Regions from separate parts of the Homo sapiens genome. Here region 1 is linked to region 2. The links come from fine-mapping of genetic effects on gene expression. A gene starts in region 2. The other region holds a variant in brackets. All regions are shown on one strand. Distances are from middle to middle. Region 1 overlaps TMEM87B (transmembrane protein 87B). Region 2 holds the start of TMEM87B (transmembrane protein 87B).

Region 1 (5,378 bases), 56 kb before region 2:
CTTTCTGTAGAGTTATGAATCTTTCTGTAATGCTACATCTTTCTGTAGAGTTATGAATCTTTCTGTAATGCTACCTCTTTCTGTAGAGTTATGAATCTTTCTGTAATGCTACATCTTTCTGTAGAGTTATGAATCTTTCTGTAATGCTACCTCTTTCTGTAGAGTTATGAATCTTTCTGTAATGCTACCTCTTTCTGTAGAGTTATGAATCTTTCTGTAATGCTACATCTTTCTGTAGAGTTATGAATCTTTCTGTAATGCTACATCTTTCTGTAGAGTTATGAATCTTTCTGTAATGCTACCTCTTTCTGTAGAGTTATGAATCTTTCTGTAATGCTACATCTTTCTGTAGAGTTATGAATCTTTCTGTAATGCTACATCTTTCTGTAGAGTTATGAATCTTTCTGTAATGCTACATCTTTCTGTAGAGTTATGAATCTTGAAGTTTAACTGTTTTGCAGCAAGGCCTTCTCAAACCTTCCCATCCCAGTACAGTCAAATAACAGACTGATGCCAAAATCATTTCCTTCTCTTTCAACGTATACAGCTCTGGCCCCTCTTATGTGCTACAGCCACCATACAAGTTACAACTTAGCTACCACTAACTTCCCTCCACTCGTCCTTTTTGAAAGTTAATGTTCCGTGCATCCAGTCTTTAATTCTTACACTTCAGATTTCTTCCCGCCTTGTGCCACACAACTTAATGTCCAAGTGATCCACAGCTAATTTTTTTCCCAAAAACTTTCCTAAATCCACATCCTCTATCCAAATTTCCTGCTTAGTAAATGAAAATGAGATTGAAACTTTAATATCTCAGCAAAATGTCTACAAGTATCAGAGATTAATTTAGACAAACTGCCATCTTAAAATCGTTTAAACTCAAGATTTCATAAAATAACCCTTCATTTCCTTCATACCAGTAAGTATTTATCTTGTTCTTGTTTGAAATGGGGACTTTATTCATAAATCCTTTCAACTTTACCCACAAATCAATTCATAGCATCTTTCTGTCTGTTCAATTTATAATAATCTTAAAAAGTAGCTTTCAGAACTTCTTTCTGAAATACATCTCTACTTTGTGAAAATATCAGCTCCAAGGAAATATGCAAAAATATATTTTACCTCATCTGAATCCACTAACACTGGAAGAGCTCTGAAATAAAAGGGAAAAAAAGGTGATAATGTTGTTAACAGTAAGGCCAGTGTATCCACGAAAGCCGAATACAGGCACATGCCATGGCCCACTAATTCTCACTCCTGGGTATCCACAGGTGACAGAAGGGAGCATCTAGGCTCGCAGACAGACATGCAGGAGTTTTCGCAGCAGTGCTGTTCTCAATAGCACTCAACTGAAAATAACCCCAATGGGTAAATTGCGGGTTATTCAGACAATGGAATACTATACAGCAAAGCAAATGGATGATCTATTGAGGGATAACATTTTAAAACCTGACACAAATAATCTACAGTTGTAGACTTCAGGACAGCAGGACCTTTGGGAAAGTGGGCTCCTGATGTGAAAGGGAAATAGGAAATGGGCTTTTTAGAGCACTTAGTGTTATTCTGTTTTTTGATCTGGGTGACGATTACACAAATGTGCTCATCCAAAAATTTTATTGCGGACCTAACCCATTTATGAGTAAACACATTATGAAAGGCGGTATTTACAGAATCCAGCATTTGCTTAACTTCTGTGTCATTATGACCACTGCCTGGATGTCTGCCAGCAAAGGGTACCAGAGAGAAGTGTTATATAACAGAACTTTTGCTCAACAAAGATAATATAGATATAAAGAAAAGACGAATGTAACAAATGTTAAGTAAGTTTAATCTAGCCTCAATGTGTGACAGAGGTCTGAGGGAGGAGAGCCTGAAGGAAATGTCCAAGTTCCAAAGTTTTGCCATGAAAGAGCCACGCACAACGCCAGAGGATGCTACCTACAGTGCGGTCCATGGTGAAGCCAGGAGGGCCAGGAGACTGACTAGGTGTGAGGAAGGAGGCAAGGCAGACTGTTTGGAATAATACGATTAAGGAAAATATGGGGGAGAAGACGGCGTTAGAGGAAAGGTGAACCAGAAGGCAGTCTGCTACACGCTTGGCACCTTGTTTAGAGCTAAACACTAGCAATATCAACAACGGTCCCTGCTATGACGTTAATGAC[T/C]ACTTAAAACTTATTAAGAACGATTCAGTGCATTAAAGAGGGAGATAAGCTATGCTAATGTCACCTTCATGGGTTATCGAAGATGAGGAAATTCACAGTGAATATCATACCAATATCTCATAATACATATCATGTGGTTATTCATGATCTGTTTAAAATGTCCCATGACTTATAAAATTTTTGTTCCATTTCCACAGATGTATAAGGGGAAGGCTTTTCTCTGTGTTTAAAGTCTAAATACTAAACTTGCTATGTAAATTGTACATTAATTTTGGATAGTATTGGGCTACATTTCTTGTGTTAAAGTTTTCGTAAGTGAAGAAGCAAAGGTTCCCAAGAACCTAAAATTTTGGAAATCATCTTAGATTATAGAGCTCTACTCATTTCACATAAATGGTTCATGAAGACATCAAATAAGAAGTTCAGTCTTCTATATTTCAAAGGATTTTTTGTAACCAAGAATATATTTCTATCTACAGAAAAAAATAGTAGAGAATGGTGACTTCCTCACATGCAAAGAGAACTACCTAGGAGCCTTATTGGTTTCCAGCAAGAAGTGATGGCACAGTAGGAGGTAAGCCTGCTTAAATAATTTCCTTCTAAAATGCTTAGTTATGAGTTTCCAAATCTGGAAAATAATGGTGGCCACCTAATTTGAATCTCTCCATATAGTCTTGCTCAAAAAACCATAAAATTACTAAGGATCACAAACAAAACCACAAAAGACACATGCCTTCAGCATTACCAAAAAAACACCACAAACTTGAAATTATATGTAAATAGAGAAATAAATGTCAAATTCCAACAGATTCCCTGCTGTGACTGCAAGCTCATGGGTACACAGAGTAGGGAAACAGAGGGTTGAGAGACTTTAGGAAAAATAGTAGAGGGGTGGGAGGACTCAGACAACCGTAGACAAAATTCAACCCCTCCAAAAAAGCCCAACACTTAGTGCCAACAGACTGAATAAAACCAGTGACTTGGAAGAAGTTCACAGCACCTGCTACACGGAAGGGGCTCAAATCGAGTGGGACAAAAAGCAGCACCCTTGAACGATCATTGTTTTCAGGAAAGGATGATATATAAAAAAGAAGAATATTCCTTGGAGATGTGATCGTGTAGTAAATAAAAAGAAGACAGTAAAAAGTTGGGGGGGGCGGTGGGAGAAGGTCTGCAGAAATAAAAGAAAAATAAAACAACACCAACCTCTCCTACTCCATACCATCAACGTCATCCATAAAAGAAACTACAATTCATGCGCACTGATGGAAAAAGGCACTCAAACCAGGAACCTTCATCATAAAAGCTCTCAGAATGGGAAAACAAAATCAATTCCATATAACAGTGCAGGAAAGAAAAAAGAAGGAAAATGAAAATCAAAACATTTTACAGTAGAAGAAAACTATAGTTATAACACACAATACTCCAAATTAAATACAATAACTTAAAAAGAACATTTGGCAATATTAAAAACATTCTACAGTAAGAAATCTAAAAACCAAGAGCAGAAGTAGATAAAAACAAAGCATGAAGAAATTCAAAGAATCAATCATAATCAGAAAAAAAATTAAAGAAAAAGACAAAAATGATTCCAGTGCAGTGATGCAGAAAAGTACAAGGCACCCAAGGGAGAATAAATTCAACAGAAATCTTAATGTGTGGTAGGAAAACAACATAGAAAATGAAACAAAGAAGGAAAAAAGGATCACAGAGAATGTGATTGCAATACAAGAGAGCAAGTAAAGCTGGACAGAAAAGGTCAGATGATCCCTTCCACAAAAAACACTGACAAAACCTGGACCAAAATGTCAAAAATAAGTAGCTAGCCGGGTACAGTGGCTCATGCCTGTAATCCTAGCACTTTGGAAGGCCGAGGCAGATGGATCACCTGAGGTCAGGAGTTCGAGGCCAGCCTGGCCAACATGGTGAAACCCCGTCTCTACTAAAAATACAAAATTAGCTGGGTGTGGTGGCGCCTGCCTGTAATCCCAGCTACCCAGGAGGCTGAGGCAGAAGAATCACTGGAACTTGGGAGGCAGAGGCTGCAGTGAGCTGAGATTACGCCACTGCACTGCACTCCACCCTGGGTGAAAGAGCAAGACTCCGTCTCAAAAAAAAAAAAAAAAAAAAGTAGCTGAAGGCACTGGAAAATGACCATGGGACATGGATCTGAGAAGCTCAACAAATTCCAAGGAGGATAGACAAAAAAAAAAAAAAAAAAAAAAGACCATACTTAGGCATATCATAAACACAATGCAGAAAGCCAAATATAAAGGAAAAATCAGAAAAACAGCAAAAGATAAATGTCACATCACACACATGAGAACAATACAATTAATGACTACTTTCTCCTCAAAAACAACAAAAGCCAGAAGATATTGGAAAGACATGTTGGAAGTGCTCAAACAAAAGTCAATCAAGATTTCTATATCCAGCAAAACTATCCTTTAAAAAGGAAGGAAAAGTAAATACATTTTCACATAAATAAAATTGAGAGAATTTGTTGTCAGCAGACCTATCCTATAAGAAATATTAAAGAAAGACCTATAGGAGGAAGGTCTTAGCTCATATATAGAGGAAAGAAAGAAGAAAAAGTAAATACATGGGAAATATAAAAGAATATATACACCCATATTTTCCTTTTCTGACTGCTAAAATAAAAAAGTATAACAGTGTATTGTTAGTTTCATAATGAATAGGCAGTTCTTACTTTGCACAGACTATTTATACATTAATTTCAGTTATCACAGTTTAGTTAAATAACACTAGTCCCCCAACAAGACAGTTTGAATTCCATAGTTAAATATATTTAACACTAGTCCCCAGCAAGGCAGTTTGCATTCCAGTAACTCATAAATGCGATGACATATCACTTCATAGTCACTAAGAGCTAAAATCAAAAAGGTGGACAATAATAAGTGTTAACAAAAAGTTTGGAGAAGTTGGAACCCTCATATATTGCTGATAGGATTATAAAATAATGCAGCTGCTTTGAAAAACAGCTTGGCACTTCCTCAAAATGTTAAACATAGAGTTACCATATGATCTAGCAATTCCACTTTAGGTATACAGCCAAGAGAAATGAAAATATATGCCCACACAAACCTAGAATTATCATATTCATAATGACGAAAACTAAAGATAAAGTTAAAATCCTGAAGGCAGACAATTCCCCAGCCCTTCTCACCCAAAAAAACCTCAACCCACACAAACAAA
Region 2 (5,378 bases):
GAGGTGGAAGTTGCAGTGAGCCAAGATTGTGCCACTGCACTCCAGCCTGGGCAGCAAAAGCGAAACTTCGTCTCAAAAAAAAAAAAAAAAAGACTGAGGCAGGTCTCTCCTCCAGGAAGCAGGGTTAGGTGACCCCCTTGGTGCTCCAGTAATATCCCAAGTATATCACAGTGTATATGACTATCTACTCATAAATCTGTTATCCGTATTATTGTGTGAACGTCTTGGGAGAAGGGGCTGTGGCTAAAATTCATCTTTGCAACAGCAATGACCAGTCTAACATATGACACACAGTGGTGCTTCAACCATTTGCTCCCTTGTACACTCAAAAGAACCATTTCTTGGCCAGGTGTAGTGGCTCATGCCTGTAATCCCAATACTTTGGGAGGCTGAGGCAGGAGGATGGCTTGAGGCCAGCAGTTAAAGACCAGCCTTGACAATATAGTGAGACCCCTATCTCTACAAAAAAATTTAAAAATTAACTGGTGTGTGGCATGTACCTATAGTCTTCGCTACGCAGGAGACTGAGACTAGAGGATTGCTTGAGCCCAGGAGTTTGAGGCTGCAGTGAGCCATATGACTGTGCCACTGCACTCCAGCCTAGGTAACAGAACAAGACTCTGTCTCAAACAAACAAAAACAAAGAAACAAAATTTCCTGATAGATTTGCAGTACAAATGAAAGAAAGCCCCACTCTCCTTTCCTGTTTCTGACAACCTGAAATGTGGAAAATATAAGTCCACTCTTGGGAGAGAAGGGCTTTTAGACTTCTGGCGGCCCAGGGTCACACAGGAGTAAAATTAGCCTAAAGGTCATGCAGCACTCAAGGAGCAAACTTCTCTTCCTCATGCAGGAAGAAGTACACTTGGCAAAGATCTTTGCAGGTATGTTCACAGTACACTTAGCAAAGATCTATACAGATATGTTCAAGTAATCCAACAATATGCATGCAACTGATTCACTTCCAATATAGTTATATTGACTATTCACTATCGTAGCAGCAGGAAGCCATGAGAGTAGTTCACTGAGTTCTACTTTTTCCCGTTCAGGAAATTAAATAATGGAGATGTGCAGACTATAACTGGCACACAAATTAGGTCACCAACCCAGAAGAATCCAATCCTGGAGGAAATGGCTGCACTAGGTCTTAAAAGATCCAGAAAGATACCCAGCGTGTTCCTCTGAGTAGCTTTTGTGTTGTGGGAAGTATTTGTAGTCTTTGGAACTACTTTCTTTTTCTGGTTAAGGAAATCAAAATATAAGTCTCATCTTTAGAACCTGGACATTATTTCATGCATGTGGAAAATACCCATCCCAAACAGTGCTGGATGAGTCATCTGACCCCAGAGAAGCCGGAGATAATGCCTCTTCCAGACTTCCTGTCTCTCTTTTGCAAGACTTTCCATAATTCTGCCCCTGCATCTCTCCCACATCATCTCCTCTAATTACCAGACGCCAAGTTTTCTAATAGCCTGCCTTGGAAAGAAGAGTTTCCACCCACTCATGCCTCCAGATTCGCCTTTCAAGCACTCCCTAATCACAAGTCCCGCCCCACCTACACACACACTCTCTCTCCCGGAACTGTGACAGGAACTGTAGAGAAATTCAGGAACTCAAGAAGAGAGAAATAGAGGTAGGGTGACTACTGCACGTTTCCCCCTCATTTAAATTTTTTCTTTCTTTTTTTTTTTTAAGGAAGCGGCAGACCCGCTTTCTAAGTTTATGCAGAAACTGAAGCGCTGGCAAGTCCTCCCTGCGGCCTCAGGGGTGTGGCCCACTGTGGCTGCATCCGGACAGGAAGAGTCGAATCCCAAAGATGCTGCTAGATGTGCCGAGAGATTCCTGATCCAGCCAAAACATGTCAGAGCAGAATGAGGGCCACGGCGTCGGGCATGGTGACCCTCAGTAACAGTCCGAGCGCTCGGACCCGAGGGCCGTCCCATGCGCAATCCTGACGGCTCTTGCCTGCAGCCCAGGTCGGGCCGGAGGAGGGGCCGCTCCCCGCTCCCCGGCTGTAACAGACAAAAGGCTCAGGGAGGGTATCAGGGGACCCGGTGCTGACCCGGCAGAGGCAGGGTGAACAAGCCCGGGGTCAAGCGAAGCCGCACGACGGCCCTGACGGCCCGAGACGTGCCACGCCTGGGTCCCGACACTCCACTTACGTCGTTGACTGTCTCTAACCAGAGCCCGAGCTCAGGGACCGCGCGCACAGCCGCCGGGGTCCAGCACAGGAGGCAGAGGGCGACGCGCAGCAGCGGGGCCCGGGCGGGAAAGCAGCGGCGGCGGCGTGGCAGGAGCCCGGCTACCGAGCGGCAGGCGGCGACCATCTTGACCAGGAAGCTGCACCTGGCGCTCCGAGACGCCTGCCACACCCGCACCTGGTGCAGCACCGCCCCAGGCAGGCGGGTCCGAATCCGGGACGCGGGGCTCGGACTCGGGTGTGGAGGAGGGGCTCGCGCTTGGGCCTGGGCGGAGAGGCGCCGTGCAGTTCTGGGAAACCCGGCCAGGACCGGGAGGCAGGGCTTAGGGCTCTGAGCCGGGCCCGAGCGTGCAGCTGGGAGATGCCTGGAAGGCAGAGATAGGAGCCAGGATGTGGAGTTGGCGGCGAGACGTGGAGGCTGGGCTCAGGGCCTAGCGTGGGCGTGAAGATAGAAGAGGAGCCGGAACGTGCAAGGGAGGGCTGGCAGCCCGAGCGCGGAGGCGGGGCCGGGTAGGGAGGCGCCGCCGGAGTGTGGAGACGAGGCGGGGCTCGGGAGTGTGGGGGCGGGGTGGGAGGCGTGGCTCGGGGCCAAGCTGGGTGTGGGGACAGGGCAGGGTTGGAGGCGGGCTCGGGACTGTGGAGGCGGGGCGGGGCTCGGGACCAGGGCGGAGTGCGGAGGCAGGGTGCCCCAGGAAGGAAGAGCTTGGGGCCAGGCCGAGCGTGGAGGCGGGGCCGTGTGGAGGCGGGGCCGTGTGGAGGCGGGGCCGTGTGGAGGCGGGGCCGTGTGGAGGCGGGGCCGTGTGGAGGCGGGGCCGTGTGGAGGCGGGGCCGTGTGGAGGCGGGGCCGTGTGGAGGCGGGGCCGTGTGGAGGCGGGGCCGTGTGGAGGCGGGGCGGGGCTCGGGACCAGGCCGGAGTGCGGAGACAGAGTGCCCCAGGAAGGAAGAGCTTGGGGCCAGGCCGAGCGTGGAGGCGGGGCCGCGTGGAGGCGGGGCCGTGTGGTGGCGGGGCCGTGTGGAGGCGGGGCGGGGCTCGGGACCAGGCCGGAGTGCGGAGACAGAGTGCCCCAGGAAGGAAGAGCTTGGGGCCAGGCCGAGCGTGGAGGCGGGGCCGCGTGGAGGCGGGGCCGCGTGGAGGCGGGGCCGGGATTTGGAGGCAAGACCCGGCGGGGAGGCGGAGCCTGAGCGTAAAGGCGGGGCTGGTCAGGGAGATGGGGTCGGAGTGGGGAGGCGGAGTTGAGGACCAGGCAGTAGTGTGGAGACGGGGCTGGACGAGAAGGGCTTGGGGTTAGGCCGTAGTGGGGAGGCCAGGTTGGGCGAGGAAGCAGGGCTTGGAGCAAGCCCTAGTACGGAGACGGGACTGGGCGGGGAGGCGTGGCCTGAGTGAGGAGACGGGCCTGAGTGGGGAGGCGGGGCCTGAGTGGGGAGGCGGGGCCTGTCTGGGAGATGAGGCGCAGTGGGGAGGCGGGGCTCGCCGCCAGCGAGCGCGAGTGTCAAGGTCCTGGAGTCGAATGCCTAGTAAGTGCTACGGTTGGAGTGCAGTCTAGAGTTCTGTTCCCAGGGTGTCTCCATTTCTTGCGTCTTCTACACTTACCCCTGCCTCGACCCTCTCAGCTGTATGGAAACCGTTCTTTAAATTCAGGGAATGTGCCAGGAAAGTGCTTTGAGGCCAAGGCCAGTTGAACACAAGGCATTGTGTTGTGAAGGTTAACGTTAATAGGACAGTTAATACTTTTCAGAACAAGTAGTTACTTGACTGGCTTAAAGCTCAGAGGGGTCAGGGCTTGGATCCGTCTTATTGTGTACCTTCCCTTGCATTTTCGGCTGTAAGCTGAATACATGTTTTGCTGTCAAAGAGAATTAGTTCATTCATTATCAAATGTAAATAATATCCAGCAAGGGAATAGAATCCTGTGCTAATATTGTTATTAACGTAGAATAAGATCGATTTATAGTCCAAAGGCCTTGGCTGCTTTACCAGTCACCAGTAATTATTGAGGACCTACTATACACTAGAGATTGCATGTGCATCTTCCCAGTAAGCAACGTGATCAGTTCTGTTTAGGTCAGAATAACTGTAACAGGACCACAGGGGAACATCCACCAGAGATTTAGGAAGTAAGTGAGGGACAGAAGGAGAGAACAATACATGAAATTTAAGTTCTACAAGAAGAGTTAAGGGCGAGTTACCTGTGGGAGTGAGGGGTAAGTCTGAAATCGTTTTAGTTACGAGAGAACTGGAGGAATGGAAAGATCTTCCAGATGACTGGATGTTGGTGTGAGACGGAGAGTGGCAAAGCTGGGAATATTTAAACAGTACCAAAACATACAGGCATTCCTAAATTAAGTTAGGCAGATGGCACCTTTAGTTAAGAACACTGGAGAGGCAATGATTTTTTGTTTTGTTTTGTTTTTGAGACTGAGTCGCGCTCTGTCGCCCAGGCTGGAGTGCACTGGCGCGAACTCGGCTCACTGCAAGCTCCGCTTTCCTGGTTCACGCCATTCTCCTGCCTCAGCCTCCTGAGTAGCTGGGATTACAGGCGCCAGCCACCACGCCAGGCTAATTTTTTTATATTTTTTAGTAGAGACTGGGTTTCACCGTGTTAGCCAGGATGGTCTCGATCTCTTGACCTCATGATCCGCCTGCCTCGGCCTCCCAAAGTGCTGGGATTACAGGCGTGAGCCACCGCGCCCGGCCCCAATGATGGTTTTTAAGTAAGGATGAGCTGATCAGAAAGATCGTGTTGGTTGTCAAATTGGGAAACAGGAGCATAGGAGAGCCAGGGTGACACCATTTTAAAAATAACTCCATCTTAAAACTAGCAAGGTACATTTCTTGCCAGTCACCACCCATGGTCGTAAGATGTTTACAGTGGCTGGGCACGCCTGTAATCCCAGCACTTTGGGAGGTCAAGGCGGGTGGATAGTTTGAGCTCAGGAGTTTGAGACCAGCCTGGACAACATGGCGAAATCCTGTCTCTACACGAAATACAAAAATTAGCCAGGTGTGGTGGCGTGCCTGTGGTTCTGGCTACTCAAAGAAGCTGAGGCGGGAGGATCACTTGGGCCTGGGAGGCGAAAGTTGCAGTGAGCCCTGCACTCCAGCCTGTGTGACAGAGTCAGAACCTGTCACAAACAAAAAAAAGAAAGAAAGAGAAAGAAAGCAAGAAAAGGAAAAAAA

Evidence for each region. PIP is the estimated chance that this variant, and not a neighbour inherited with it, causes the effect.
Region 1: its variant is the best candidate, but not a certain one, in a credible set for the expression of TMEM87B in whole blood (TOPMed, PIP 0.76).

Annotation. Positions count from the first base shown.
Region 1 is chr2:112,108,674-112,114,051 of GRCh38, reverse strand. TMEM87B (transmembrane protein 87B) reads right to left here. Exons shown (of 19, transcript NM_032824.3): 18 at 1,123-1,153. Among named protein-coding and RNA genes, the nearest start is that of FBLN7, 27 kb to the left of the region's middle. The variant T/C (reference allele first, on the strand shown) is at 2,163.
Region 2 is chr2:112,052,541-112,057,918 of GRCh38, reverse strand. TMEM87B (transmembrane protein 87B) reads right to left here and starts at 2,650. Exons shown (of 19, transcript NM_032824.3): 1 at 2,163-2,650. The coding sequence starts at 2,327. RefSeq lists enhancers at 1,509-1,848, 1,879-1,948 and silencers at 2,679-3,408, 3,609-3,658.